Regions from separate parts of the Homo sapiens genome. Here regions 1 and 2 are each linked to region 3. The links come from fine-mapping of genetic effects on gene expression. A gene starts in region 3. Each other region holds a variant in brackets. All regions are shown on one strand. Distances are between the middles of the regions.

Region 1 (10,681 bases), 94 kb before region 3:
TTAGGCCCCACCTCTGACATTGGGGATCAAATTTTATCATAAGGTTTGGGGGACAAAAATCCAAACTATAGCAATATGTGGATGGACTAAAAATATTGTGAAGATCCCTTCCATCTTCAGGTGAATAGAATCCAGCTAGCTCAGACATCCAGATCTTTTACAATGGCATTTGAAGCTTGTTTCTGAAACAATGTCCAGGTACTAATTTACTAAATTCTGGTTGTTGAACACCAACTGTAAAGTTGCTGCCTCCTAACTTTAGAATATTGTTGCTCTTGTCTCAGGTGTGAGGTCTGGTGATGGTACCTAAAGAGAGAGACTTGGAACTTCCTTGAGGTTGTGGTAAAGGTTGTATTATCAAACCTGCCAAGACCAGCTCAATTGGGGAGGCCCTAACCCAGCAATGCTACAGGAATTAAAGACACACACACAGAAATATAGAGTGTCGAGTGGGAAATCAGGGACTCTCACAGCCTTCGGAGCTGAGAGCCCCGAACAGAGATTTACCCACATATTTATTGACAGCAAGCCAGTCATAATAAGATTTACTAAAGGTATTCCTTATGGGAAATAAAGGGATGGGCTGAATAAAAGGATGGGCTCTGGCTAGTTACCTGCAGCATGAACATGTCCTTAAGGCACAGATCACTCATGCTATTGTTTGTGGTTTAAGAACGCCTTAAGCGGTTTTCCTCCCTGGGTGGGCCACGTGTTCCTTACCTTTATTCCAGTAAACCGACAACCTTCCAGCATGGGCGTCAAGGCCATCACGAGCATATCACAGTGCTGCAGAGATTTTGTTTATGGCCAGTTTTGGGGCCAGTTTATGGCCAGATTTGGGGGCCTGTACCCAACAAAACCAAACCGGGGTCTGCTAATCCAGTGCAGCAAAGCCAAAGAGTGACACTGGGATGGAGATGAGAGAAAATGAGGTATTTATTGTAGGGTACTGAGCAAGAAGATTCAGGCAGCTCATGTTTAAGACCTGAACTCTGAGATGGTTTAAAGGTAGGAGTTTATAAAGATGGGGAGGCAGAGGTTACAGAAAAAGTCATAAATCAATACATTGAGGCTATACATTGGTTTGACTAAAAATGTGGGACATCTTGAAGCAGGGCCTCTAGGTCATAGGTAGATTCAAAGACTTTCTGAATTGTGATTGGTTAAGAAGCAAAGCTTTGTCTAAAATTTGGGATCAGCAGAAAAGAATGTTAGCTTTAGCTCATGGGTTTAACTGCCTCCCTCGGGAAGAAATTTAGAACGAAGAATGGTGATCGGAGTTCAGTCCTCAATTGCCCCTTATCTGAGTTCTATGTGCCAATGGATCCGTTTGGTGGGAGTTTGGATTTCTGTAAACCAACTCAGGAAGAGAGGTTAAAATGTTATCTTTAATTTCTATAGGGAACAAAACATCTTGTGATGCTAACTGCTTTAGCTATTGTTTTAAGCTACTTTTGTCTTCTTGCTTATCAAATCGCTCATTTACTTCCCAGGGCTAACTAGGTGTATGGAATTTCCCTTAAAGGAAGTCAAAATATTCCCTTATTATCACGCTTTGGTGGTGAGGGGTGGGCTGCAGGCCTTTAAGAGGGGTCCCTGCTCTGTCTCAGTTGTGTGACTCCTTTCTTTGCAATCTGAGATTGTTTTCAGTGAAGCCTGCTGGGGAGGTTTTTGGGAGGAGTCTTGTATCCTTAGTCTGCTTCTAAGCATTTGAAACTACTGATAACCAAATGAATCTGATAATTTTGACTGGCAAAATTGAGTTAGGTTAATTCATAACAGTCAAGGCCTGAGAAAATTATCTTGGGCCACTGGAGCCAGTACTGATTAACATTAAGTAGGCAGTAGGCTGCTATGGATGGGCGCTTCTTACCAGTTGCTAGTATGAAAGACTATTGATGTCATTCTTTGGCACAAGCGACATGATTCTCACTTGAATGGATCCAGAAGTTTTAGAGTTTCTGACTTAGTATCCGTGGTGTTCCCATGGGCTGACAGTATAAAGTGCCACTCCAGTGGGGGCTGGCTGTTCCCTGGATGATGACTTACCTTCATTCTGCATGGTTCCTTCAAGTCTGCAGCACATTGTCCCTCAGCCCCATGAACATCTTATCTCATCTTAGTTCCTTGGTCTCCCTTCAACTGGAAAATTTTAACTAGACTTGGTGATGGGGAAACAAGAAGCTTTGTTCTTATGTTTCCTGTCTTCTTTCTTGCTTTGAATCTCTTCACAGATTGCCTCTTGATGTTCAGAAGCACAAGCATTTGAAATTTTAAAAAGCCTTCCCTGGTATTCAGCTTTAACGGAAAATCATCCTGCCCCATGATTTAGCGTGAATGATATAGGAGACCAGAATATGACACCCCAAAATATGCCTCTTTAGCAGAATTATTTTGAGAAACAGCAGACACAGGAGAAGCTCTGAAAATAAAGGAGAAGTAAACCCTTTTCTATGGGAAATTTGCATTTATAAAGTAAATCTCAATTTTTTAAGTGTGTCTCCCTCTCTGTATAAGAAAGAGAAAGATGGGTAAATCACTAGAGGCTCTTAGCAGTGGGGAAGGTATTGACTTACATCTGCATTACAAAACTTACTCTTCTTTACTGTACTTTTCCTAGTTACCTCGTCCTCCCTGACACCATTCTCTGTTTTGTCTTTAGCTGAAGATAGTATTTATGCTTGAATTCTAAACTATCTCTTTGAGAGTTCCTCATTTGTCCCTGGGTGTCTCCCATGTATACATTTATTGCAGGGTACCAAGCAAGAAGATTCAGCCAGCTCGTGTTTAAAACCTGAAGTCCCAGATGGTTTAAATGCAGGGGTCTATAAACATGGTGGGAGGGGGGGAGGCAGAGGTTACAGAAAAAGTCACTGTATACATGTTAATAAACTTCTATTTGTTTTTCTTTTGTTAATCTGTCTTTTTATATTGAGGCCCCAGCTGAGAATTTACAAGGGTAGAGGAAAAATTATCTTTTCTGTCCCTGTAATGGGCACATGAAGAAATACCATGAAAAAGAAACTTTCTAATTCATATATATATATATATATATATATCCCAAGCCTTATCTCAAATCCCTAGAATAAGATAGGTTTGGAAAGCTAGAATTTTGGAGAACTTTCCAAAAGATAATATGGTACATATTATGTGTGCAGGGAAGCTTACACTTCTCTTCTGAAGGTTTGATAATTGAGTCGGCTGAAATAAACTGATAATAGACAGATTAACAGGAGAAAAGGCATACAAATGTATTAAGATGAAAGTGCACAGAGTCACAAAAAGTATGAAAACTCAAAGACAATTCAGATGATTGAAGCTTAAATCCCCTCTTATAAACCAAAAATAAAATCCTAAGCCCCCTCAGCTAACTAAACATGTAATCGCCTGGTGGGTTCTTCCTGCCCATTACATGGACAAAATTAATTCACTGAGATTGTGGTATTGCAGTAAAGAAATAGTTTAACTGACATGAGGCAGACCACACAGGAGAACTGCAGTTGTCACTCATACCAGCCTCACTAAAGGCTCAGAGGTTAGTTTTTCAAAGATAGTTTGGTGGACAGGGGACTAATGAATGGGTGCTGCTGATTAGCTGGGGATGCAATCACAGGGGCATGGAAAATAGTCCTTGTGTGCTGGAGGGGCACTCTGGGTGAAGGGCCACAGGACCAGTTGAGTCCTGAGTCTGGGTGGGGTCAGTGGTTGCCAGGACACAAAAGTCTAAAAAACATCTCAAAAGGCCAATTTAGTTTCTACAATAGTGATGTTATCTAAAGGAGCAATAAGTCACAAATCTTGTGACCTCCAGCCACGTGACTCCTGAGCAGTAGTGGACTACAGAAAGTAGATCTTAGCAGAATTCAGTCCCCTTTCATGGTTAGCTTGGCCTATAGCCAAGAATGGGTAAAAACAGCCAGCATGTGAGGCTAGAAGCAAGTTGGAATCAGCCATGCTAGATTTGTCTCACTGTCATAATGTTTGCAAATGCAGCTTTAAACAGACCCTCTCTAGTTCAGGGAGAACCCAGAGAAACCTGAAAAACTGAATTCCCAGCTATGATGGGAATGGAGGTCTGATATGCCTCATCATACTCCCACCCTTTGCAGTTTAGGCGCAACTGACCAGCATTAACATTAAAATAGAGATCATAAGACTGAGTAAACAGACTATGGCAATAAGACACCAATTCCAACCTGACTGGTATAGCATGTCATGGCACATGACAGATAGCAGACCCTGAAGGAAATAAACAGATTTTACTTTATTTTTCTTTAACATGTTTTGAAATGGCTCTGCAAAGCCATCTTTTGTGGGGGAAATTTGCATCTGTAGAGAATCTCCATTAATGGAGTCAGGCCTTCTCTTTCTAGGCTTTTCTTGGATCTAGGAGAGATTAACTGAGAGTCTGATACCTTTAAAGTCTGAAAAGAGACATTTATCTTCTATTCTCTCTGAAGACTGTGATCTATGAAGCTTCATCTACATACCAAAAACCTTGGCCCTCACAACCCCCCTTATCTTTACTCAAGCATTTTTGTTTCTACTGACTTCAAGTCTTTAGACAAAACTTAACTCTTTCAACCAACTGCCAATCAGAAAATCTTTGAATTTACCTATGATCTGTAAGCATCCCCTCCACCCTGCCTTCAAGATATCCCACCCCTTTAGGCTGAACCAATGTATACCTTCTATATATAGATTTATGATTTTACCTATAATTCCTGTCTCCCTAGAATATATAAAACCAAACTGCAACCTGACAAGCTCAGTCACAA[C/A]TGTTGAAGGAGCTCTTGAGATGGTTCTCAGGCCATGGTCACTCATATTGGGTTCTCAGGCCATGGTCACTCATATTGGCTCAGAATAAGCCTCAACACTTTTCATGGGGGAAAGGGAAGTGGAAGATAATAGACAATTTTTGAGGAAGAATACATGATTTTTAGGGGAGGTGAATGGGCTTGAAGAACAGACAATAGCCTGGGAAAAAGTTTGTATGAGCTCCAAGTGTGGAGTCAGCTTCAATCTTCTTTCCTATGAGTTAGTCTCATCTGTTTGATGAAATTATGGGGATGAAGGGTGGGGTGGGGCAAGACAATTTAATGCCTTCTGAAGGAAATTCTCTTAGTCAAATAAGGAACTCAGCATTTGCTGCTCCTCAGGTCCTCTCAGTTGGAAGTTCAAAGCAGTATATTTCAGGGTATCATTTTCTGAGTCCCAACATGTGATACCCTGCAGCACGAAGTAGGTAACACTCCCATAATCAGTCATACTAATATTTCTGGTATATAACATAAAAATATGCACCGTAAGTGTGGTAAATAAAGACTTAAAAGTAGCCTCACATTAGTTCAGGTCAGGTTTAGAAGCCTAATGAGCTAGAAGTTATTTTGATTTTTCTGAGCTTTTGAATGTGAAACAGCACATAGGGATTATGAACCTGTATTATCTTATCCCAACAATAAACACTAAATCTGCCATTTTGCTGTTTCTTTGGCACTTCTTCAGTGTCATCAGCCATGAAAGACGCTGTTCTCCTGTTAGACCCAGAAGATTTAGGAAGCAGTTAAACACAGACTCAAAAAACTATCTGATGGAAGTGCGATTCCCTTTATATATTGGAGAATATGCAATGCATATAAATTAGCCTTATGTATTCTTTTGTAGCAGGATGTGAACATTCACTCTTATTGTGGAAAAATAGTCATTTGGTTATTCTTTTCTCTGAAGCAGTAGAAAGATGGAACGCAAATATTTCCTTCTCCAGGGAAAATTTCAGGATGAAGTGAAGCAGTTATTTGGTTGCTAATGATTTTGGTAGGCTATCAAAAACTACTAAGAAACGAGCAGGAATAGAGCCTGGGTAAGGCAAAAGGCAGAGGATATGGAATCTGTAGGACCTGAGGGAGAAAGAGTTGTGGGGATCTCTGGAGCAGAGGGCACCTGCCTACTGTTCCATGGCAGGACCCTGAGGACATGGAGGATATAAGGAAATTGCTTGTGGTGCACCAAAAAGCAAGTCTAGACCTGAGATATTCTGTTTCCTGGAGAATAATCACAAACTCCCTGCAAGGCAACGAACCATAAGAGAGGCAGACCTGAACAAGCCCAGCAAATAAGGATAATGGTCATTTCAGGGTGAATTTGGTTTCATGGATAATTGAGAACCAAAACCCTTCAGCCCCCTCCCCTTTGTTCCAACTGTGTGAGACCTGGATGAATGATATAACCTCAGGAGTTAGTGGGGAAGGTTGTCTCAAAAATGAAGGGCTATATTTCCTACCAGCTCAGCAGGACAGGGGTTCAGAATCAAAATTAAAACAGATTTATTGTAAAATAAGACATTTCTGGCCCACCTGAGTTTGTAATCTGAGGTCAACAACTACTACAATTTAATTGGGATATTAAATGTTACTGTTGTATAGTATGTTTAGTTATAATGGCAACTGATGGTCTTTAAAAACAAACTGTCAGAATGTCTTCCTGGCTTGTTTAATTCTGAGAAAAGATGCCAAAATGATGTACTGGTAGGTTCACCACACTCACACACACAGACACACAAGCACCACAAACAAACAAACACGCAGAAAACAACTCGAAATATGGAAATACATAAAGATTTAGGCATTGAAACTAAGCCTGTTTTTCTATTTTTAAAAATTCTATGTACTACGGTTATTTTATGATAGAAAAGAATTGGAATACAAATACTAATGTAAGTATCTATAAATTAAGATTATTAAAGGGAAGTGCCCCATAGACTTTAAGCCCTAGAGGAGTCTTAGAGACAATGTAGTCCCATTTTATAGAGGAGAGCAAGACTCACATAGTATAAAGTACCTGTGGTGGTTTTAAAATATTGCTCCCAAATTCTTTGTCACATCTCCCATTGAGAGGTGGGGAGCTACGTCCCATTGCTTTGAATTTGGGTGACTTGCAACTGCTTGGCTCAATCGAGTATGGGAGAAGTGATCTTGTATGATTTCCAAGGCTATGTCATAAATACCCGTGTAGTTTCCACAGGTTCTACACTCACCCTAGAGGAAGCCAGATGTCATATTAAAAGTATTGTCTTAACACTGCCACTTGGAAAAGCCATGTGCCGTTGTCCTAGATGACAGCCCCAACTGAGATCCCAGTCAACTACTGGTACTAACCACCAGAGTGAGGCATCTTGGATATCTAGCCTAGCTGAGCTATCAGATGATTTAAGTCCCAGTTGACATATGACTGCAATGGTAGAAGAAACTCCAAGTGAAAACTTTCCAGCCTAAGCCTTTCCCAAATTTCTGACCCATAAAATTATGTAAAATAAAAAGATTACTTTAAGCCGCTAAGTTTTGTAGTAATAATAACTAGAATATCCAAGGGTCATGGAGCTAAGAGACTTAGTAACAGGACTTGGGCTAGAACCCAACTTTCCCTTCTCACCTAGGGTATTCCTGTGGCCCAAGGTAATCAGATAAGACACTGGATCAAGACAAATATATATACTTGTTGTTAAATTCCATAATATTCTTTGAGTACCATGGATTGCTCCTACATTGTGTCAGAGGCTGTTAAACACAGGGGGTGGCATTAAAAGAGGATACAATGCGTGGGGGAAAAGTTGTCAATTTCACTTCATTCCCATATTCCTGGGAAGAAAAAATCATAACTGCTGGAAAAATGATGGATGTTCAAAGAGTATGTGCAAACATTTAGATAAAGAGTAATCTTTACATGATGTTTTAATTATCATACAGTATAAACATTATCATTTTTTTCATTAAGATAGGAAATTATCATTGTTTTCGTTAAGATAGGAAATGAAACCAAATAAAATTTGTGAAAATGTCAGTCATCTTTGGGAAGGCCTCAAATGAACAAGGGAGAGTCTTGAGCTTGGTATCCTTTCATCTTGGAAGAATTCATAGCTGGGAATTGGCTAAAGCTTTGCAGTGGGTTGAATGATGGTTTCCAATGAGATCTGTCCATGCCTTAGTCTTCAGAACTTGTGAATATGACCTTATTTGGAAAAATGGATTTTACAGGTGTAATTAAGTTAGGAATCTTGAGATGATATCATCCTGGATTACCCAGGTGGGCTCTAAATCACATGAAAAATGTTCTCATAAAAATTTCAGAGAGAGTGAAGCCTGCAGACACCTTCATTTCAGGCTTCTAGCCTCCAGAACTATGAGATAATAAATTTCTGTTGGTTTAAGTCACAAGATTTGGGCAATGCATTACAGCAGCTCTAGGGATCTAATACGAGCTCCTTAAAAGAGAGTTGTAAGAGACCTGGAGGAACAAGGCTGTCCTCTTAGGGTAACAACAGTGACTACAGCACTACGACCACATAGGTAGATGTGGGACAGCAGTCAAACTCATATTAGGAGTTTCTCTGCAAAAGTCAGACATTTTTTGCTGCCAGCTGTTTTATTCCAGAGACAGTACCAATTAGAACATGCTGATCATATGCTGTTGGTTAGTATGTCTGTCTCCTCAGCTGATTTGTGAATTTCTAAAGACCAAGAGCCTTCATTTCTTTCTTCGACAAAACTTAATTGAAAGACTGTTATATTCTCCACTCTTTGCTAGGTGCTAAGATGCTGAGTAACACATAGTTATTGTTTTCAAGATGCCAGCCGACCTTGGGTGATACACCACATTGCATTCAACTAATGTTTGATGGAGGAAATAAATATGGATAGATAAAATGGTTTGGAAGAGTAGACAGTTTTTTACTGACAGAGACCTGGGTTCAAGTTGTGTAAACCTGGATAATTTCCTTAATGGTAAAATGGAAAAAAGTAACACCTACCTTGTAGGGCTTCTAGGATGATTAGCATATATTTAAAATATAGGTCCCATATAAAGTACATAATTTCAAATGCCTGTAATGTTACTAATAAATGAGGAACTAATGTTCCAGCAAAGATTATACCTTGCATCCTTGCATTAATATTTTAGTACGTTTTCCATGTGTTTTTACTTATTTCATTTTTCTCCAGCTTTATAACGTAGGCAGGGCAGGGATGATTCTCACATGGAACAAAAGAACAAGACACTGAATCCATAAAAGAAGAGGATGGTAATGGAGCTAGACAACCCCCTAGATTTCCTGTCTCACAGGGCCCTGTATTTCCCACCACAGCCATGCCATTCACCTGGTTGAGAAAGCCCTTCAAGGATAAAGGGTGGTCTACTCACAATTACAGTTTAAACATGACTCATCTTCCTTAACAGTCAATTTTACCCAAAAATTTGGGGAACAATATATCCTTAAAATACTGCAACAACACAGCTTCACTTTAAAGAATGCAAAAACTGAATTATAATAATGAATACTTATGTGCATCAGTCTCTGTTCTAACCATTTAAAAAACCAGTATTTCATTTAACTCTTACAACTTTCCCAAGTAGATCTCATCATTATCCTCCTTCTACACATTAAGAAACCAGGAAATAAAAACAGTTAAAAGACTTACACAAAGTTACAGTTAGTGGCAGAGCTGGGATTTGAACCCAGGAGATTTGGCTCTAGAGGTTCCAATTTTAACCACTTTGTTATCAATGTTTAGACAATTTATTATGAATATTTTAATGGACCTAGGGTACCAGGGCCACAGTTATTTTATTCTATTGTCTATCATTGTGGGCATAGGTCAGGGGAAGACACAGGAGAATTTCAGAAGCACTGTGCTACACAGGCAGTTTACAGAAATGATTTTTAAGGATCAATTGTGTGTGTGTGTGTGTGTGTGTGTGTGTGTGTGTGTGTAGAGAGAGAGAGAGAGCATGAGAGAGCAAGAGAGCAAGCATTTCACAGTGTGTGCAATTTTAGCTTAATTAGAATAGGAAGACTATTAACAAGTTATTTTTAAATGCACCAAAGATCAGGAGGCGTATTAGAATTAAATTACACCATGTGAGGCTGATTGGCAGCCCATGTAATGTGGGCAAGTTCACAATCTTGTCTTTTATCAGCACAGTTTGCAAAGTAGGCCTGAAAGGCATGGCCCCAAACCCATAGAGGGTGGAGCTATAGTTATTCAAGTAAAAAAAAAGAAACTAGTTGGAAATGTGATAAGCAATGATTAGCTAACCTATTTCAGGAGGAAAATGAACAAAATGAGCAGATGCCGACTGTAGTGGCTTTAGTGAAAAAGGATAGATACACTTGTTTAAATGAAAAGTTCTCTGTCACCTGAAGACAGAATTTCCCTTAGGACCAGACCATTAGTGTGTCATTTGCATAGAGAGCTTAAAACAAAAACAGCCACCACAAATAGAAACTCCTGGGCACAAATATAGACTGCATTCAAAGGATGCTGACTGGTGCAAGGGACTGAGTCCATGCTGAGGGCACTTGGAGACCAATTGCCAGTTGGGAATGTTCCTGACCTTGCAGTAGCAAGAACTAAAATAACCCCAGCAAAACAAAGCGTGGAAGAAGGGAGAGGGGTTAGAAGACCTTGGCTCCTGTTTTGGCTGAAGCTCTTGGGCTGCAGCCCGGAGCCCATGTGCATTTGAGGAATAACTTTTCCTCCCTGGGTTCCCTCATGGGTAACTCCCTCCTCTCCAGTGCTAACTGCATCTGCCTCCTCATTTTGGACTGTTGAATCAAAAACCCTTGAGCTCTCCAGAGGCTCCACGTTGTTACCCCCTAACTCCAGCTTTATCTTGTGTTCAAGGTGGG
Region 2 (10,681 bases), 25 kb before region 3:
ATTGATAAATTCGCTGCAGTGTTGTTTGTAAGGACAAACAGGTTTTTTTTTTAACCACTCATCAAGAGAAGACTAGTAAAATAAATTAGACAAATCCAAACAAGGAACACAACGCAACGACTAAAAAGCAGAGGGCAGCTCCATGTGGCTATCTTTATAAGTGTTGAAGCCCAGGCTATAGCATTCAAGAAAATAAGCAAGGTAGAGACCAATGTATAGAGTTACTTGGGCTGGGTGTCTTCTATTGCCCTTAGAGATCAGTTCTCCACCCTTGGTCACCAGACTGTCTGCCCCAGGAGGCTCATCTTTATGGACTACATCAACCGGCTCTCTTGCCCTCAAGCTTCCAGTAAGTTTGGCCAATGGGGTGACCCAGCGGTATCTAAGGGAAGCAATGAGGAGCACATTTAAGGTATCTGTGTTCTGGCTCCCTCTGTGGAATCTTTTCCAGCTGGCCAAGTCCCTCACTTGGAGGTCACAGGTTCTCTTCAGGAGGTCATTTCCAAGATTTACTTCTTCCCTCTCCTTGCCACTTTGGGCCTAGCAAGTCAACATAGCAATTACTAGTCCTAAGTATCTGCACTATGGTTTCTCCCATTTTGTGGTGGTTTCCCTTGACTCTATCCATACCTTTGTAAGTACTTGTTTTACTAAACTCTCCTTAAATCTCCCTAATTTGAGGGTGCCATCTGCTTGCAACTGGAACCCTGGTTGACACACCACCATTTCTGTTTTGTTGTTATTGCTTTTATTGCTTTTTTTTTTTTTTTTCAGACAGAGTCTTGCTCTGTCACCCAGGCTGGAGTGCAGTGGCGCGATCTCGGCTCACTATAAGCTCTGCCTCCCAGGTTCACGCCATTCTCCTGCCTCAGCCTCCCGAGCAGCTGGGACTACAGGTGCCCAACACCACGCTTGGCTAATTTTTTGTATTTTTAGTAGAGACGGGGTTTCACCGTGTTAGCCAGGATGGTCTCGATCTCCTGACCTCGTGATCTGCCCACCTTGGCCTCCCAAAGTGCTGGGATTACAGGCTTGAGCCACCACGCCTGGCCTGTTACTGCTTTTTAAAGGGAATACACACACACACACACACACACACACGTGCACACACATGCATGCTTATATATTTAGACGGTCTCTGGGAGTAGATGCAAGGACATGAGAATCAAACATTATTTGGCCCTGTAAAAGGAAAATAAATAGGTAGAAAACTGAGGTTGAGAAGCAACTTTTTATTTCATACCCTTCTGTTACTTTTGAATTTTCTATTATTTTTCTGTACTTAAAAAATGTTTTCATTATAAATGAGCAAATGCAAGGCAGATTCTGTCATGGCAGATGCATGCAGCTTTCATTCAAGTGACAGCCCCACATAGCCTCTGGGCACCAGGATCAGAAGTGGAGAAACAATACCTAATAGGGAGACCACCATGTGGGCAGAAAATAAAGAGATAAGCTCAAAAGCATCAATTTTCCTTTTCATGCACATGTTTTTGTAATACTAATATAGTTTTTAAAACCTGTCAAGAATGACATAATCAATACTCTAAAATCTCTTAGAGCAGGAAATAATTCTAGTAAAATACCTAGTACGGGCCGGGTGCGGTGGCTCACGCCTGTAATCCCAGTACTATACACACACACACACACACACACACACACACACACACACACACACATACATATATATTTTCACACTGAAACTACCTACCATCTGGCCAACAATTAAGGATATCAAATGTCTGGGATACTCTCCACACAACAAGACATCTAAAACAAACACCAGGTTGGTCCCTACCCTCCTATGGCTTATATTCTAGTTTGAGAGGCAACATTAACAACGGCAACCTCATGTGAATCAGTTACTTGCCTTTAAATGCAAACATGAGGTCAGAAATGGAGACAGAGCTGATACGGGAAGTGTGTGTGTGAGTGTGTGTGTTTATGCATTTATGTGTGTGATTTCCTCATTTGGACTTGTTCAACTGAGGGAATTTAGCTTTGTAGGTTTGAGTTTCACTAGCATTTTGGCTCATGAATTTAGTAGTTTGCTATGATTGCTTTAAGAAAACTGCATAAACATAAATTTGTATTTACCAAACAAATTAAGGGATTAAGGAATGATTACTTGTGTCTCAAATGAATTCATCCAATGAGGTACTTTAAATTGAAATCTTGGCTGTACCTTTAAACTCAAATTTTTTTAAATGCAATTTACAAGGAAGTTTTTTTAGTCTTCTACGGAATGAAACAAGCTGTAGCTGAACGGAAAAATAATTGGCTTTCTCCAGTGACAAACATAAAATAACTGAGCTGGAATTTCAATTGCATCCTTTCCTATTTAACACTTACCAGCCCCAATGACCCCAAATAAATCCTAAAAATGCATACTTGGTTTTCTTGCTTTCTTGTATCATTGAAGAATGAAGTACAATTTGAGTCCCCCCAACGCTTGCTGAATTTTCATTTATTTTTCTGTTTTTTGTTTGTTTTTGTTTTTAGTGGCAGGGGACCTCTCTGAGATACAGGCCACATAACAGGAGACAAAATCTAAACATTTAAAATGACTCTTGCAGGTGGAAATATCTACACATTGTTGCCAAAGGCAGTATTTCAGAATTCTAGCACTTGTGCCATATTCAAAAAGCTGAAACAATTGTAACTTTCTCAATCATGCTCTTTCAGCTCTAATAGGACCCAGTGAATAAAACAAATTTCTGAAAGCTGGGGAGAAGCAAGCAGTTTATAGTAAATACTGTCATCAATACATGAAATTCTTAAGTTTTTCATTGATAAAGCTCACTTTAACAGTGCCTTTATCTGGCAAAGACTGACTGCAGGGACTATGAGATGAGTCAAAAACCAGAATGTAGGGTTTGGGGCTGAGAAGAACAGGAAGCCAGTTAAAAAAGTTAAGCCATATAAATGCAAATGGTATATTAGATCAAGTGAAAGAGTAGAATGGAGCACTATTTCATGAACTCTCAAAATAATAACTTTATGCCTCTGCTGAGAAGTGCTTTAAAGTTGGTACTTTACCTAAAGTGACAGCAACTGAGAAAACAATTCTCCCTCAGTTGACAGGACTTGGAGTGCTGTAGCAACAAGGAAATAATTTATTATTGAAAATAAAAGATGATTAAATAACTCTCTTGGTGATGGTCAAAACATTGGTAAATGGCACAGACTGATAGAGGCAAGATAATGATACACGACTGACGGAGTTTTACAACATTCCAATTCAACTAAAGTAATTTGTTACTTACCAGCAAAATTAGTCAACCTAAACGAAAATGTGCTGCTTTCTGACAGCCCTCATATTTAAACCCTTGAGGGAAGGGGGACAGGATAAGACATGGTCCTTTCCTCAAGATCTTTAAGTTCTTCTAGGGAATTTTTAAAAATGCACGAAATGATTTTCATCAAAAGAGCTTTGGAAATAAGGATGGTCTAAATGAAGATGTGCTTTTTAATTAAGTTATTCATTTAGGATTTAAACAATTCTTTATCTCAAAGTACTGAGGCAGCTTAATGGAAAATGCAGAAACTAACACAAAATCTGGTAAGAACAGATTTTTAAAAGATAGTGACTATTAGAGAATCTGAAAAATCAGCCCCTGAAATGAACCATTTGCCTCAACTAAGCATGGGATTTGGTCCGAATATCAATGTTCTGTGAGAGCAGAATTTTCACTGATAAATTTCTCCGTGGAGGCTTTTGCTTCAGTTTTTCAAAATATGCTGCGGGGTTCTTGTGCATGCCTGGTACCTGAAAGGTTTTTCAATTACAGTTTTATTAAACATGTGAAAATATTGGTCAAAACAGATGATTTCCATATTTTCTCTGGAAAAGGGCCAGAGTACTACCATATTTGGGAAAGGCATCCCTTTAAAAAGTAATATAACGAGGTCCAAGGCGCTTGGTTTCTAACAACCAAATAACTTGGGCACAGACTGAGAAGCTAAAGCAGAAATTGCTACAGTGGGTACAAGAGCTGGACACAGAGCACAGATGTGTTCTGTTTGGCCTGAACTCTTTTCTTTTTAAAATATAAACCAAGTTTTAAAATTCAGAGATTTCACATGCAAAACTGGTTTTCTAATTCCACTTAAAGAAATAAAAAAGACTTGGAAACAGTGGGCCCACACCATCCCAAGACAACAGTCAGCTGACTGTGAGCTGAGATGCTCCTCTTGAGAAAGTCTCTGTGTCCTCAAATTTGCCTCCTCCCTGACACTCCTTCATGTCACCTACTCCCCTGCCAGGCCCCTGTGGCCACCTGAATGTTTACAATTAATGATTATTTCACCTGCACATTCAATTCTCTCTTCTAATATTAGGGTTTAACTAGAATGCAAAAAGTCATGATTTAACTCTCTAATATGAATATTTTTAACATGCATGTAATTCTCTAATGTGTATAATCACATTTCAGTTCAAGGCCAGAGGACATCTACTTTAGAAATCAGATCTATGTGATGTTAATAATTATTATTACCATGATCATGATTTATCGAATGCAGACCAAATGCTTAGTCCAGTATTAAGTACTGTGATGATTATTTCATTTACTTATCACAACCACCATGCAATTTTGTCATTAACATTTTATAGATGGAGAAATTAAGGGTCAAAGAGATGAAATAACTTATCATATCATATCAATGAGAGAAAGCAAATAAAAGACAAAGCCAATGGTGACACACAAGCCCTCATCCTTCCTGATACTCCACAATGAAATAGATATTCCATCAAAAAGTTTAAGAGTAGAACTTTACACACATTCCAGTACAAGGCAAAGACACAGGTGTGACTACTAGGAGTTGAAGAAAGTATACAAGGGGTGGGGAAGCAATAAGTTTCTTAGACAAAAGCTTTGGTTCTTTGTAATTACTTCACTTATTTTAGGAGACATATATAATAAGGTCAGCTTGGTGAAGCCCAAGAGTTTTAAGGTAAAAACTTGAGTGTGAATTCAGGCTCTTACATGTATTAGCTGTGGGCCACTTAACTTCTTGAAACCTCCATTTCCTGATTTATGAAATCGTCCCATGTAGGATCATGATGAAGAGCAAACATGCTTGAAGTACCTGTGAAAATCCTCTAGACAGTAAAAAATGCCACACAAGCATT[C/T]ACTTGCTAGAAAGGTAACATTCCATGCAATGCTCTCTCACACCAAAGAAAATTGCAGGAAACAAATGACAAGATAAGTATGAGTTTGGTAAATCTATTCCTACTCATCAATAGAATGTAGCAGTTTGATGACTTCTAAAAAACCTTTCAGGAAATTTGAATGAATAGACAAATTGAAATATAATAATTTTTTGTTACCACTGTGCCCTGATGCTTTCAAATATACAATGGAATCAATCATCGTTACAATAAAGTTGCCAAGAGTGTTTAGGATCTAGAACCAAATAATCTGGTTTTGAAATATTGTTCATAACCAGCATAGGTCTGGCAAACAGGCAGTAACTTGAGAATCCAGTTCAATTTTCAAATCCTCTGCTTACTCCTGCACATTTATCAGGCGAGAGCTGATCTACTTTGGCTTTGAGACACTTAGTGTGTTATTTCGCAACATGCTAATAAAATTAGTAAGTTTGACATGCAGAGATGGGAAGGCAATGATGTGTCTTAAGATTGTGGAATTCTAAAATATTGAAATAAAATCATGTTTGGCTTACTTTTCAAGGAAATAAAACTGCTGTACTTTCATTCACAGCTGATGAAAGAATTACAGAAGAATATGGGCAACAACAATTGTAGTAGATTTTTAAGTACCTAGTTAAAAAGTGTTCTGGGCCATCCAGATATATGGAAAGCAATATTCCTTAATCTTCTCTCCTGGAGCTCATTTGCTCACGTAAAAGTTAATTATAAAACATTGCTATATGACTTCTACTGGAGGAGAATTCACCATGCTGGGAATGGCAGCAGGTTGCAGTGGAGAAGGCTCTGAATCGACCATGAGGGGGCTTTGAGTTCAAGGGCAATTACCCAACCACTCTCTGTGCCTGTTCTCCAACCAGTCAAACAAATGGGTTGGACATGATGAACTTAAAGGTCCCTTTCATTTTGAAAAATGACACAAAAAGGACAGAAAGACACATTCAGATTCACTTTGGTTTCTAAGATAACACCAAACACTTTGAAACTTCCCCCTTCATGTTTTTCAAGCAGAGGAAGTAAAAAAAAAAAAAAAAAAAAAAGAAAGAAGTTGCAAGTATTGTTAAGGCTTCTAGAAAGGACAACAAAGGGCAGGAAATTTGAAACAAAATCTGAGAATCTGCCCTTAAACTGGGCAATTTTGCTTGTTTTCTCACAGTGCAGTTAGATGAAAAAGTGTAAGGTTGATCTTCGCCTTTCCTGGGCATTACTCATTGCTGTCATGACCTTGATGCAATTTGCAGTAAACATCATAAAGGTCTCTCTTGTGGTGAGTAGCTGCAACTTTTCTGATGCTACCTCCTGTGATTAAAATATCTACTCCCGGCCTGGCACGGTGGCTCACGCCTGTAATCCCAGCACTCTGGTAGGCCGAGGTGGGTGAATCACGAGGTCAAGAAATCAAGACCATCCTGGCCAATATGGCGAAACCCCGTCTCTACTAAAAATACAAAAATTAGCTAGGGCTTGATGGTGCGTGCCTGTAGTCCCAGCTACTCAGGAGGCTGAGGCAGGAGAATCACTTGAACCCAGGAGACAGAGGTTGCAGATGGCCAAGACTGTGCCACTACATTCCAGCCTTACGACAGAGCAAGACTCTGTATTTAAAAAAAAAAAAAAAAAAAAAAGGCTACTCCTTTCCAAGTCCTAGCAATCCCACTAAGGTTGGTAACTTAGTCTGTTTGGCTGCCATACAAAATATGTGAGACTGGGTGATTTATAAAGGACAGAAATTTTTCACAGTTCTAGAGGCTGACAAGTCCAAAATCAAGGCACTGGCAGTTCTGATGTCTCGTAAGAGCCCCCTTTCCTGCTTCCAAGATGGTGCTTTGTTGCTGTGTCCTCTAGAGAGGACCAGTACTGTGTCATCACATAGCAGAAAATGGAAGGGCAAAAGGATCCAGGCTGGTTACCTCCAGCCCTTTTATGTGGGACTAATCCACTCATGACTTAATCACTTCCCCCAAATCTCCGTCTCTTGATACCACCACAATGGGGATTAAGTTTCAACATAAATTTTGGAGGGGAGACATCAGCCACAGTAGTTGGTGAGAAAAAAGGACAGTATTTACATAATGACAGTTGTCAATGGGCTGTGGAAAAGTCAAGATAGATTCCAGCAGTGATTTTAAGATGGAAAATGAGAACCATGCACACAGTCTTCAAGGTGCAATCTTCCAACATAGTTCTGGAACACAGCTGGCTCCTTCCATCCATGGGGAATGACCACATTTGTGTGCTGAAATAACATTTAGTACTAGAGATAAAACTGGAATAAGTGATCTAAACTTTGAAATGTTTTGAATGACCTTTGGCTACAAAGTCAAATTATAATGCTTTCTATTTCTTAAGACAACTCTTTATGGAAGTTCTAGTATGTACCTAACTTTGGCACCTTAGATTTGCCCCACACTGAATCTTATCTATTAAACCTATCTCATTCTGGGGTGAGAACCCAGATGTGTAAAATCGTATGGCCAGAGGTGACTGAGAAGTGCATTTTGACTATGTTTCATAGTCTTTTATCCATCTTAGCATAATCTTTTTACCAGCACCAGTGGAGTTGTGAACTCGCTCAATTTCTTGTGATGTCCAGTGTAAAAATGTATGCCTATAAATGTAACTCTTAGAAAGAGAAGCAAAAATGAGAAACCATGGGGGAGGAGGGGAGGAAATGACAAGCACAGTCTGTTTTTAGGACACTGTACTTGCTGTTCCCTCCAACTAGAATGCGCTTAACCCAGAGATCTGCCTTCTTCATCCCGATTTCATACCAATTACTGCTCAAATATCACATTATCAAAGATGCCATTCTTGACAACCGCTTCTAAAATTACAAGCATCTACCATTGTTCTCAGACCCTCGCGCTGTACTTATCTGCTGACATGTTGATAGAATCTTGTTTATTAGCTTGTACACATGGACTTTAATTCACTCTGTATTCCCCAAATCTCAAACATTGGCTGGCACACGGTGGTTGGTACTCTATAAACACTTGGTGATGGCTTTCCTATCCCTAAGTCCTCCAAAGCCAAGTTTCATACCTCTTCCTTAAGTTCCAAAGGAAACCTTATCTGCAGAAAATTAATGCATATTTGCTGTTGCTGGATAAAGAATAAGGATATAGTCACAGAGAAAAAAGGACATGTTGAGGCCAGGTATGGAGGGTATAAACAGTTGGTGAAGAGTTTTAAGCTCAAGGCCTAGCCTGTCTAACTTAGCAATAAAAGGAAGTCAGTTCTGAAGTCAAAGAGAGTTCTTCTTTCCCCACTGGGAGGAGCTGGTTCATGAAAGTGGAGGGCCAGAGCCAAGAGAACTCTCCCAAGACACATTGTTCAAAAGTCAAGGGCATAATCTAGATAGAGCTACACAGTAGCCATGAGGACACATGGATTTATAAATTTAAATTAACTAAAGTTAAATGAAATCATACATTCAGTTCCAAGTCAGACCAGCCATTTTCAAGTGCTTAATAGCCACATGTGGCCAGGAATAGACAGGATACTTTCATCATTGCAGAAAGTCCTATAGGACAACACTGATCTAAAGAAATTCAAAAGGACCTGCGTTCCTCGGCTTCTGAGGAGATCTGAAAACGAAGGCCCAGAGGGAAATGGAAGGAGAAGCAGGGCAGAGCTTGAAAAGTAATCGCATTGGAAAGGGCCCTGACTGCTGGCTTGGATGCCTTGTGTAATTAAAGTTCTATCCCAACTTCTTAAGGAATGAGTCTCGTATTAAATGACTGGCTGTCTGTAGTGTCACTGCTGAGGTAGGGAGAGAAGACAATTAGGGACAAGGAGTAGTGTTCCATGGAAAACACGTTAGCTATGAGTGGCAGCAGCAAAAGGTCTCAGAAGTGAGAGAAATGGACCCAACTAGGTTTGCAACAAGCTGAAACCTGTAAAGGCTCATGTCAGCTGGCACAACCTCTCAAAATGCAAATCCCTGAGCCCAAGATAAATGTAAGGCTCGTCTGACTCCTAAGGTATCAAGTAATTCTTATTAAGCCCCATTTCAATGACTGAAACCTAATGCAGAGCCCAGGCACACAGATTAAGTTTCCAGTCAAAGCCCACACAAGCCTAAAGAAAGGAAATTAACATTTTAGAGAAAAAAAAAAAAAAAAAAAAAAAAACCCACAGGCTTTTTCAAAGGCTTTTTTTTTTTTTTGGAGGATTTAAGTCACAGCATGCCAAATAAAGGTGAGTTTCTAGGAGAATACAGCACAGAGGTGACCAAGGTGGGTGAAATTTATTCACAGGGGAAAATCCAAATGCCTTCAGGGAAACCACTTTTGCAGGGTTCTTCTGATAAATACTGAACCCAATTAAAAGCATCCCTTCAGGGCAAGTTTTCTCCTAGGAGATTTCTATTGGCCGCTTTAACTTCCCTTTCCCCAGAATTTCCAGGAGAAGTTTGTAACGGTTTATAATCCCTACCACTCCATGCTCATAGACTTTAAGCATATTTTTCTCCCACAAGGCAGTACTATTTTTATAATCCTTTTAAGATTAAAACTAAAAACACAGATGATTAAAAAAAAAAAAAAAAGGCCTGGCTGCATCCTCCTACAATAAAGTATTATAATTGCAGTGCACTACTAAGTAGTATTTCCACAAACATTAGACTATCTGGTTTCCAGGACAAAGAAACAGCCTATAATTCCAAAGCACAGGAATGGAAAAGTACAAGTAATTTAATCTGTCCCACTGTGATTATAGGTGCTAAGAAATTACCTGAACGGACCTCTTTGGGACTTGAGAAGAATGGGGACTTTAATGATGCTCCATAACTGCCCTATTCATTATGATACCCAAGAGCCACCTGTGGCTATTTAAATTCAAGTTAACTGAAATAAAAATATATCTATATTTGAAATTCAGTTCCTTATTTGCACCTGCTACGTTTCAAGCCACATGTATCATCTAAGATGGTCTCAGACCCACTGTTCAATAGAACTTCCTGCAAAGGTGAAAATATCTTATACCAGTGCTGTCCTTAAACCTTAACACAGCCCAGGTATAAGATATTTTCATCTCTGCAGAAAGTTCTATTGAACAGTGGATCTAAGACCATCTTAGAGAGATAATTACATAATTTTTCCCAATTTCATAATAGAGATTATGAAGTAACAGCCTCCAAAATACAGGGTTTTTAGGCTACTGGCTACCTTCTACACTCAGGTGAACTTTTTGTAGTGGTTTACACATGTGTACCAATTGCCCTCATCTCCCCAGTTTCAAGTACATTAAAATGGCATTAGATGTAATAAAATACATGCCACTGAGACTCAGCTCAATTGAAACTTGAGTTTCTTCAGAATTCCAAACGATGGTGCATCTCTTTCTGAAACCTGAAGTGGGGACTTGTCAGGAAAATGTCTATGAGGGAGGCCTAGGAAAAAGAAGGCATTTTCCAAAATTAATAAATTTATTTCCTTGTTTTTTGTCACACCTTATTCCAGAGGTGTCTCTAGGCTACTGTGTGCGGAACGAGGTCTGGACAGAACC
Region 3 (10,208 bases):
TCAAACTGTCCCCTTCTTCTTTGTTATGTTGGATAAAGTCGGCTCTTCTTGCCCTCATCAGCAGTTGTACACGATTGTACACAAATGATTGTCCTACACACTCAAAATTTGGGGTTTACAATACACATCTTTGCAAATGGGGTATGTCCAACTGCTATAAGTGGCCAAACCACAGGTCACCCACCATGAGTCCTACCACTAAGACACCATTGTCAAACTGTGGGCTGTAGAGTTTCCTTATGCAAAGAAACTCTGCCTTATCTTGATTTTCTGTGGTACAAATGTAGTCAGGAAGGAGGCAGATAATGCAAGCAAACCAAATCAATTAAATCAGGAGCACTGAACTGATGACATTAGATGGTAAGCTTCCCCTCTCTCAAATCTGATATCCATTCACCCCTCTTCAGCCTCCCTCCCAACACACGCATACACACATAGAGACCACACGAAAGAACCTAGCAGCATGCAAGCACAAGAAGCTTGGGCCACACACTCATACATGCACCCAGGCAAAACTCCAGAGAGACCCTGAGCAGGATCCATCTTTCCATCCATAAAATAAAGATAATAAAACTTATCTTGGAGATTTCTTCCTAGGATTAAATGAGATACATAATATCAAGTGGCTGTCTCAGGGTAGGTTCTCAAATGTTAATTGTCTTTCTCTTCCTTCTCCCTGAGATGAGACAATTTGCCTGTCCAGCATTCCAAACCCTTTGGCATGCCAAGCAAAGAAGTATGAGTCATTATCTTGCCTCAGTCACAAGCAACAAGTACCTGTGGAGCAAAATATTACCAGGAAAGTAGAGAGTGCAAAAGAAGCGGTGAGCATTCTTGCTGCGAATGCATATCTGTTCTACTGAAAATCATAACTTAAATCTGCTGAAGTTGTACATAAGGACCTGGAGGGTAGAAGCTAACAAGGTAACAGAGTTATGCTTTTATGTGGAACTTGGCCAAATAATGCCATGCTGTAGCCAGGAAGTATGTTTCCCCTGCACCCTATTTAAAACTGCTTTGGTGGTTTGCATCAGACCTAAATAATATCCACGCTACTCTAGAGTAGGCAGTGGTGGCTACAAGACCACACTTCCCTTCAACCAACGCTGCTTCACCCTTATAAACCAAAACATAAAACCCAATGAAAAAAGAAACTTAAAAAATAAATTTAGATTTTAGCACTTCATTCGTAATAAAATTCTCTTTCCGACACCCTTCTATGAAAAAAAAAAAAAAGAGGAATCAGTATCTACTGGATAATTCCTCTGGTGACTTTATTTAAAATTTTGCAGTGGCTTTCAAGGCCCTACACTGATTCAAAATTTATGGCTAAAGGAATTGCATGAAAACTTCTAGCAGCTTTCCATCATGTTTGTCAGAAGTTGAAACATCTTTTTCCATATTTCATGAGAATACAAGAACCAATTCCATACTTCAAAAACAGTCAAATTACTTATTGTGATCAGAACTAAAACTATTCTAACTGAAAGTAAAGATTTTACTATTTGGACCAAACACCTAACAAACAGTGACTGCTTAGTTAAATGCTCGACCTCAGTTGCATTAGATACAGTAGGATGAAGTGGAGGCTCAGCTCAGCACTTCCTGGGTGCTAAATGATGTGTCAGGCACTGCCAGAGATCCCAGAGATAGAAAACTGAATAAGATTGAGAGGATTAAAGGTATAATGGGCAAGAGAGTTACGTAAAGATATGACTTTGGCTTGGTATTGTTACCAGCTAAGTGAGAGGTCTGTATCTCATAGGAGACATTTACCTCAAACTGGGACATTCAAAGCAGGTTTCCTCAAGAAGATGACACTTGAACTACGTCTTAAAAGATGAGTGAAAATTAGCCAGGTAGCAGGAGTTCCAGACATCCTGAACAAAGGAACAGCTGCCTAAATTGCTCACATTGTGTGTATGTGTAGTGACACAAATAGACTGGGAAAATGTGGGCTGTGGTGGGATGTGAAGCAGCAGAGTCAAATGGGAACCAGGTCAGAGGCCCCTGGTAAGCCCAATTAAGGAGTTAATAGTAATAACAGAAGCTGATATTTATTGAGCATTTACTATGTTGCAGGCACCATGTTAAATACTTTAAAACAATATTTTATTTAATCCTCACCATAACTCCATAATCCTCATTTTACAAATGAGACCAGGGATGACTAGTAGGTAAAGCAACTACAACAGGCTACACAGCCAGTACATGGCAAGTGGGTCTGGAACCCAGGACGGCCTGATTCCAAAGTTTATACCCTACACTCTTCTACCACCAGCCTATCCTCAAAGAGAGCACTAAATGAACGCATTGGGTCCATCATGCTGGCTATGGAATGGAGAATGCAATTAAAGGCTGCCCAACTGGGGCTCCGTGACAAGGCAGGGATAGGAAAGAGACAACAAATTGATTCAAAAATACATTCAATGGGACCTAGAAGGAAACATTCAACATGCACATCCTCCTAGTGCATACAACAACAAAAAAAAATGAGGCTTTTGAAAATGAGGTGTAGAAAATAAAACACCAGTATTCCATAATGCTTTCAAATATAAACAGTTAAAACACGTATCCTTTTCTTTACTTATAACATGCTCCCAGCTGTTAAATTCAATGGCAAAGACCAGGTCTGTCTTATTCATCTGAGATGGTATCCCAGGTCTGAGCATCCTGCCTGGCAAGAGATACTCAATAAATATGGTTGAAAAGGTAGAAGAAAAAATGCCCAGTTTTTGCAATGATATCAGAGGTGCCTTATTGATCCAGAGTTAAAAACTAACCTTACTGAAAAAATTAAAAAGTCATGTTCATAACTGAGTAGAAAACATGTAGTAGTTATGTTGACTACATAGACAACAGTCATCATTAGGGAATGCTACATTGAAAAGAAGGCAATGAGTTCAAAATGTGATTAGTATTTTGTATAAATCATAACTCATTAAAAATAAGATGTTGAGTGGCCTAAAGGTGGAAATGTGTTTTTATGAGGCGGAAAAAAAGCACGAGTAGACTGAAGATCAGATTTGGGGCCTAATGATGTCTAGTCTCTTACCCTGACAAAATAAGCAGGTTATTAAAGTGATGTGAAGAACCTGATCACTATGACACTTTTACAAATTCTTTGTCCTCAATAAGAATCTATCTACTTCCAGGAACCTGAAAAGTCATATTTTTCAGACCTGAAGAGTTATTGTGCACTTTACAGTTTTCCCCAAAAGAGTCATTTCTTAATTTTGATCATTTAGGAAGAGTGAATCTATTAAGTCAAAAACGAAGAAAAAAAAACTTTCTATTTCTTAGTGAAATTTGTTCTTTTATTTAAATCCTTTGCATACTACTAAACAGAAGTACAGAAGCTACTAAACAGAAGACAGATTTTTGGGCCTTTTTAGGTGACGTAAAAGGAGCTTGTTGTTTATTAAACAATCTCATTACCTGATATATTATCTTGCATTAAGATATTTTGAAAAAATGTTTTCAGTTTACCAATTACGTTAGAGAAATTCTGAAACTATTTACTTACATGAAAAATTAAAATGTAAGTAGAATTAGGTTTCTCGTCTTCAATATATCTGTCTTCAACCATTGGCCAACTTTGAAAATTTAATTTGAATCAAATGAATACAAATTCAAAATGATTCATTAATTCAACCATTTTGAAACTTCAGTTCTATAAAAATATGAAATCTGTGGGCCTTGTAAAACTGTCTAAATACCCAAATAAAAAGCCACCACGTTTTTAAGCTAATTGTTTAAAAGTGTGTATATTGATGAAATGAAAGTGACTCGTGAACTATTGGGTCTGGAATTTGCAAATCATAAACCTTATCCTTGTAAACAGAACCTAACTAACAACATCAGGGCCTGCTAATTTCCTTCTTTTATAATCTGGAACAAAAGTTGTAATGATTTTTAACATCCACAGAAAATTAAGGGTGCCATTTTAAATATTTATTAGCAAAATGTCACTTAGGTTTTAAAAGTCTGGAGGAAAATGAGAGACAATTGAACATTCTGGTACTGCAATGCAGGAAAAACGCCAAGAACGAAACACTAAGATTTTATTAAAACCATAGGACTCAAATGTGTGTCAAGACTTTTTGCTTGCAATAGTGCCTCTTCCTAATTTGATTAAAAGCTTCCATCTCCATGCCACCTTCAATGTATGCCATAATTTTTAAAAAGTTCCCAATCCACTTCAAACACTCTAAAATTTACAACTGACCGTGATGCGCATTTTTTCTAGACAAACCTAAAGGTAAATCTGCCCATGTCCCTGGATAAATAAAATGAGTGCCTCCGGGTGATGTGGACTGTCAACTCCTCTACATTTCATCCAAAGTCTACATGGGTCATCTCCAAGTCACCAGAAGAGCCAGGGGAAAGGAGGGGAGGGGCACGATACGTAAGATGTTAAACATGAAGATGATGTAAAATTACCCAGATTCAAGCTGGCCATTTTACAGATGAGGAAACTAAGGCCCAGAAAAAGCTCTATGACTTGCCCAAATACTCGGTTACCCAGACCACAGCTGCAGATACTGTTATTTGGATCATAGCTGCAAAAAGTCTAACTTTTGGCCGGGCGCGGTGGCTCACGCCTGTAATCCCAGCACTTTGGGAGGCCAAGGTGGGCGGATCACGAGGTCAAGAGATCGAGACCACCCTGGCCAATATGGTGAAACCCCGTCTCTACTAAAAATACAAAAATTAGCTGGGCGTGGTGGCACGCGCCTGTAATCCCAGCTACTCGGGAGGCTAAGGCAGGAGAATCGCTTGAACCCAGAGGCAAAGTTGCAGTGAGCCGAGATTGCGCCACTGCACTCCAGCCTGGTGACAGAGCGAGACTCCGTCTCCAAAAAAAAAAAATCTAACTTTTGAAGTCTCAGAGGTTTTACACTTTCCATAACAAATAGTTAAGAACCCCCATTCCTGCATGCATATATATATTAATATTATATATATTTATATATATAATTATATATATATTTATATATATATAATATATATATATATTTTTTTATTTTTATTTTTTCCTTAAAAACCTTCAGAGACAGCGATCAGGTGGGTAGCCTAGTTAGGATTTTAACCCTTCGGTTTCCAACAAACGATAATTGCATAGAACCATCAACTCCCTGAAGACAGGACTATCTTGTTCCAGGCAAAATCTACAGCCTCTAGCACCCAGTAGGCATTCAGTGAGGGATTCTCGGTTTCACCTGAGCATCTCCACTCCCTATCCATCCATGCCAAGGCGTCAGTGGAGCCAGCTAACTTTCTTTTGGAAATCGATTATTTTCTTGAAACTTGTTTCCAAAAACTCCGGGCCAAGAAGCCGGCCTGAGGGAAAGCGTGGCCGTCTCCAGGAGCTAAGGACTGAGGAGCTGGCCTTTTGAACGGGTGGCTCAGAAAGAGCTGGGTGGGCACGCGGCATCGCCATGGGCGGAGTGGCCCAGGTGCGCTGGCTGCTTTGGCAGCTCAGGCTGCCGCTCCGGGCCGCTGCTCCCCGGCCGCCTTCAGATAACCAACTTCTCAAACTTCCCTTTCCGGGGGTGGGGGCTCGCCTCGAACGCGGCCAACACAACGCCTTTCCTGCTCGCACAAAGGGGACCAAACGTGCCCCGCGCCCCTTGCAACTGAACTTTCCTTCTCTTTTTCAAGAAAAACTCACAATCCCTGCAGCTACGGGAGTCGGGCTGCGTGAGTGTCGCGGGGGAAACTTTCCTCGTTTCCGCCCGGGGGCCGGGTTGCCGGGCCCGACTGTCAAGCGCAGCGGAGAGGCGGGGACCCCAGGAAGACCCCCGGCGCCCCGCCGAGCCCGGGCTGGGGACCACTCACCCGACTTCTGAACGTGCGGTGGGATCGTGCTGGCGATACGCGTCCACAGGACGATGTGCAGCGGCCACAGGCCCCTGAGCAGCCCCCGACCCATGGCAGACCCCGCTGCTCGTCATAGACCGAGCCCCCAGCGCAGCGGACGGCGCCTTCCCGGACCCCTGGCTGCGCCTCCGCGCCGCGCCCTCTCCGGACCCCGCGCCGGGCCGGCAGCGCAGATGTGCGGGCCAGATGTGGCGCCCGCTCGCCAGCCAGGAGGGGGCCTGGAGGCCGGCGAGGCGCGGGGAGGCCCCCGGCGGCCGAGGGAAGCTGCACAGGAGTCCGGCTCCTGTCCCGAGCGGGTGCACGCGCGGGGGTGTCGTCGCTCCGTGCGCGCGAGTGACTCACTCAACTTCAACTCAGCGCTGCGGGGGAAACAGGAAACTCCTCGCCAACAGCTGGGCAGGACCTCTCTCCGCCCGAGAGCCTTCTCCCTCTCCTCGACGTCCAGCCCCTAGCTCTCTCGTAGCTGCCAATCATGTTTCCTAGACCAGCCCCTCCGAGAGCTTTGGCCGACTTTCAGCTGCCCCTCACCGCCCTCCCACACCACTCAGGAGTTCCTCGCTCCAAGTATTTACTCAAGAATGACTAAGTGCACACAGTTCACAAAGTAACAACAGAAAACGTCCACGTTTTCCCTAGTAGATCAGAACATCTGCCGCCTCCCCTCAGCTTTCTTCAGATTGCTCCTAGGTGCTTTAGAGATGCGTTTTCAAATTGCAAGTTGAGATCCAGGAGTGAATACTCCAATCTATTGAGTCGCGAGCACATTTCTTTCCCAAATAAAATAGTAACGGTAAATTCTACTTCATTAAATTTGTGCTTCAGTTGTGTCTATATGCATGTATGTATGTGCATACACTGTCAAGTTGTAAAATGTTTTTCTTTAGGTCGAAGTCTAGAGGTTTTTCTCAAGTTTTAATGTACATATTGATCACCTGGAAATCTTATTTAAAAATGCAGATTCTAATTCAGTAGGTCTAGGAGGCAGGCAGAGATTCTGCATTTCTAATGAGCACCTGGATAGAGCGTCCCATTTTGCACCGCCTCTTCCCGGGACTGAGTCAGTGAGTAATTGTAAATGATCACCTATCACGAAGTGATAGTGGTGGGAAATGTAATTTTCAGAATGTATAGAGTATAGCAGAAACTGTAAAATTAAAAGTGGGTTGGGAGTCACCTGAATGCTTGTGCTTTTATTCCCTTAATGCAGGTGAAGAAAGAGAATACTTACCCTCTCATGTGCAAACGGGGTAACATGGGAGCAGAACAGTATAAACTTTCAAATTTCCTTTCTTGCTAGGGCAACCAGATTTGCCCAAGACATTCCTGGTGTACATGTTTTGTAGTTTAAATATTAATAGAACCCCCTTTCTCTTTCAGATATGTCCTGATTGGATAATAAACTATGTGATCAACCTACTTCCCACTCTCAAAGATATGATTCTGTACAGCCCTCTGGTCAGTAGATCTTCTAGCAATTCATTTAATGAATTCCTTTACCTGAGAGGAAGATTGCAGAGGCAAGGGTTTGTGCCAGGGTCTCCAGGGAATAAAGGTAAATAGCCCTCCCCCAAACCCAACTCCCAAATCTTTCCTGTCATTCTAAGTGTTCATTTGCTTCATCCTGGAATTTTAACTCATGCTCCACCTAGCACCCAAGCTGCCTCTGGATGTTTTGCCACTTCCCAGTACTCATGTTGAAGATGCAGAAAGTGCAGTGAAATCAGGAGGGCTAGGCATCTTCTTTCCCACCAATTAATTGCCTTGCCAAAGCTGGAGTGACTTTGTCAATGGAGGAAGATTGAGTTCCAAATCTTCTCCCTATTCCCTCTTCTGCCACCAGCCCATGCCACTGCCATGGCTTGTGTAGGAGTCTCCCACGAGTCACCCTCAGCCACGGCCGTTCTGGGCTCTTTCACTCAGTTTCTCAAACGAGAGCTGAATTCAGCTTTTCAAAATACAAAACTAGTTATACCAACCCTCTGATTAAAATCATTTAATGGCTTCCCACTGCTCTTGAGATAAAGAGAAGATAAAAACCAGATCCTTGAACGTGTCTTCAAGCCTCCAACTCTCCCGTAAACTTTCATTTGGCTTCTCCTTGCTTACTGAAAGCCTTCTCCAAATTTCGTGAATATGCCTCTGTAATCCTCCTACCCTTTATGCTTAGAGCCTTCCCCAGTGTGGACTTCCTTCCTCTGACCTTTTTTTCTTCACCCAGCCAACTCCTGGTCTTCGTGGATTGAATCATAACTTCTTTGATGGGCAAGCTTTCCCTCACCTCCATGAGTAGATCTTGTATTACACGTTCTCTTGGCACCATATGCTTTTCTTTTAACAGCTGTAACTTTATAATTATTTGTGTCATTCTTTAATTTATATTTCTATCCTCCACTCAACTCCAAATTTCTTGAGGGCAGGTATTATGTATCTTTCCCTCCACTTACTATTGTGTCCCTAAGCATCAAACACATAATCGATGTTTAATAAATATTTGTTGGATGAATGAATGAATCAGGCAATAAAGATTTAGAAGAAAATTGTATTTGATTGTTCTAGTTGCTTCATAACTCTGGAGAAAACATTGTTACCGAATATTTGAGATATAAACAGACTACATTTTAGCCGAGAATGATGTCACCACTACTTCCTTTTCTTAAGAATGGAGAAGTATGTGGGTTTCTTTCTTCTTCTTTTTTTTTTCCTACATTTGCCCAAGTTCCTCCAGATAGCAAACATGTACTTTCTTTCTCCTGAAAACACAATGTGGCAAATAAATGTCCAATAGATTCCAAAAGCTTTGTTTTCCTTAATTATCACAAAGATGTTTTACATTGTTGGAGGCTAGATATTTAAATCTATGGTGGAATGTTTAACTGGTGGTCTTTGCCATGATACATCATTAATGTTGATTTTAATTTTGTTTGCCCTTAACATTTCTGATTTAATCTCCAGTCTCCTGTGAAATTGAGAAGAATCAGAATTCAGCATTGCCAAGTGCAAGCTAGCCTTTTGAAAATCATCATAATAAAAATAATAGATGTGTAAACTCATGCATATTGCAATTTGATAATTTTAAAAATTCATCAGGCTGAGTGCAGTGGTCCACACCTGTAATCCCAGCACTTTGGGAGGTCTAGATGGGAGGATTACTTGAGCCCAGGAGTTCGAGACCAGCCTAAGCAACATAGTGAGATTTCATCTTTACTAAAAAAAAAAAAAAAAAAAAAAAAGCCAGGCATGTTGGCATGTATCTATAGTGCCAACTACTCAGGAGGCTGAGGTGGGAGAATCACTTGAGCCCAGGAGACGAACGCTGCAGTGAGCCATGATTGTGCCACTGCACTTCAGCCTAGAAGACAGAATGAGACCCTGTCTCAAAAACAAAAAATAAATAAAAGAAAAAGAAAAAAAAATTGTCATGATGCCCTTCCTTTTGAAATTCTTGTTGAAAGGGATGTCTGATACCCTTAATCAAGACATCATTTTCACACATAGTTGTATATTTGGCTTAGTATAATATTTTGTGTATTCACATAAGCAGTTAATATATACATGTAAAAAACTGGGCCATTTGCAAATGGGAACAAAAAAATAATAGCCCGACTCAGGGTTTAAAAAACAAGGAAGGTAACGTTTAAGCCCTTAATGAGTTGAAAAACAATAAATATCAACTTGAACAGAAATTTTAAAAGCTGACAATCTATTTTACCAGCTTTTTAAACTCTGCACGCACACACAAACACACACAATTGAACTGAATCAAATTGTGGTTTATTTAAACGTTGGGTTTCTCAGTTGTGATGAGAGAAGAACTTCCTACTCCCCTGAGCTTTGTGACATGCAGCTGTTGAGGTTACTGTCAGCTAGAGCAGTTAACAGGGAGATTCCTCTCCTTATAAATTAACCAGCCTCATTCTCAGCTCTTATCTCTTGACCAATTTTCCTTTTATTGTGAAGCAAACCAATAAGCACTGAGACTGTAGTTAATTTGTGAGGGTCATCCACCCTTTGTGGGTCATCCATGATGCTACCTCCTCCAGGAAATATTTTGTGATGCTTCACCTACTGTGATCACTCCTTTCCCAGGGATAACCCAGGGAACATTTCGTTTATTTAGCCTTTTTTTAAAAAAAAATGTTTGCCCCATTCTAACATGGAGTACATTATTGTTATTTATTTGCTTTTTAGAATTCTACCCTAATGATTGTAAAGCCCTTAAAAGCACAAAATATTCCTTTTTCAATGTAGAACCACACTCCGTGCTCTACAGATAATCAGTATTCAGTGTGTGTTTCTTGTCTTCAATAGAGAGAAAAATAAGAATA

Evidence for each region. PIP is the estimated chance that this variant, and not a neighbour inherited with it, causes the effect.
Region 1: its variant is fine-mapped to the expression of TGFBR2 in whole blood (TOPMed, PIP 0.93).
Region 2: its variant is fine-mapped to the expression of TGFBR2 in whole blood (TOPMed, PIP above 0.99).

The regions. Positions count from the first base shown.
Region 1 is chr3:30,696,368-30,707,048 of GRCh38, reverse strand. No RefSeq gene overlaps it. Among named protein-coding and RNA genes, the nearest start is that of TGFBR2, 95 kb to the right of the region's middle. The variant C/A (reference allele first, on the strand shown) is at 4,779.
Region 2 is chr3:30,627,154-30,637,834 of GRCh38, reverse strand. All of the region lies in intron 1 of TGFBR2 (transforming growth factor beta receptor 2), which reads right to left. Among named protein-coding and RNA genes, the nearest start is that of TGFBR2, 26 kb to the right of the region's middle. The variant C/T (reference allele first, on the strand shown) is at 5,135.
Region 3 is chr3:30,602,611-30,612,818 of GRCh38, reverse strand. TGFBR2 (transforming growth factor beta receptor 2) reads right to left here and starts at 6,218. Exons shown (of 7, transcript NM_003242.6): 1 at 5,842-6,218. The coding sequence starts at 5,935. It overlaps LOC105377015 (translation initiation factor IF-2-like), which reads left to right and starts at 5,895. Exons shown (of 2, transcript XM_047449400.1): 1 at 5,895-6,673; 2 at 7,261-8,420. The coding sequence starts at 5,895. The coding sequence ends at 6,335. RefSeq lists a silencer at 6,045-6,144.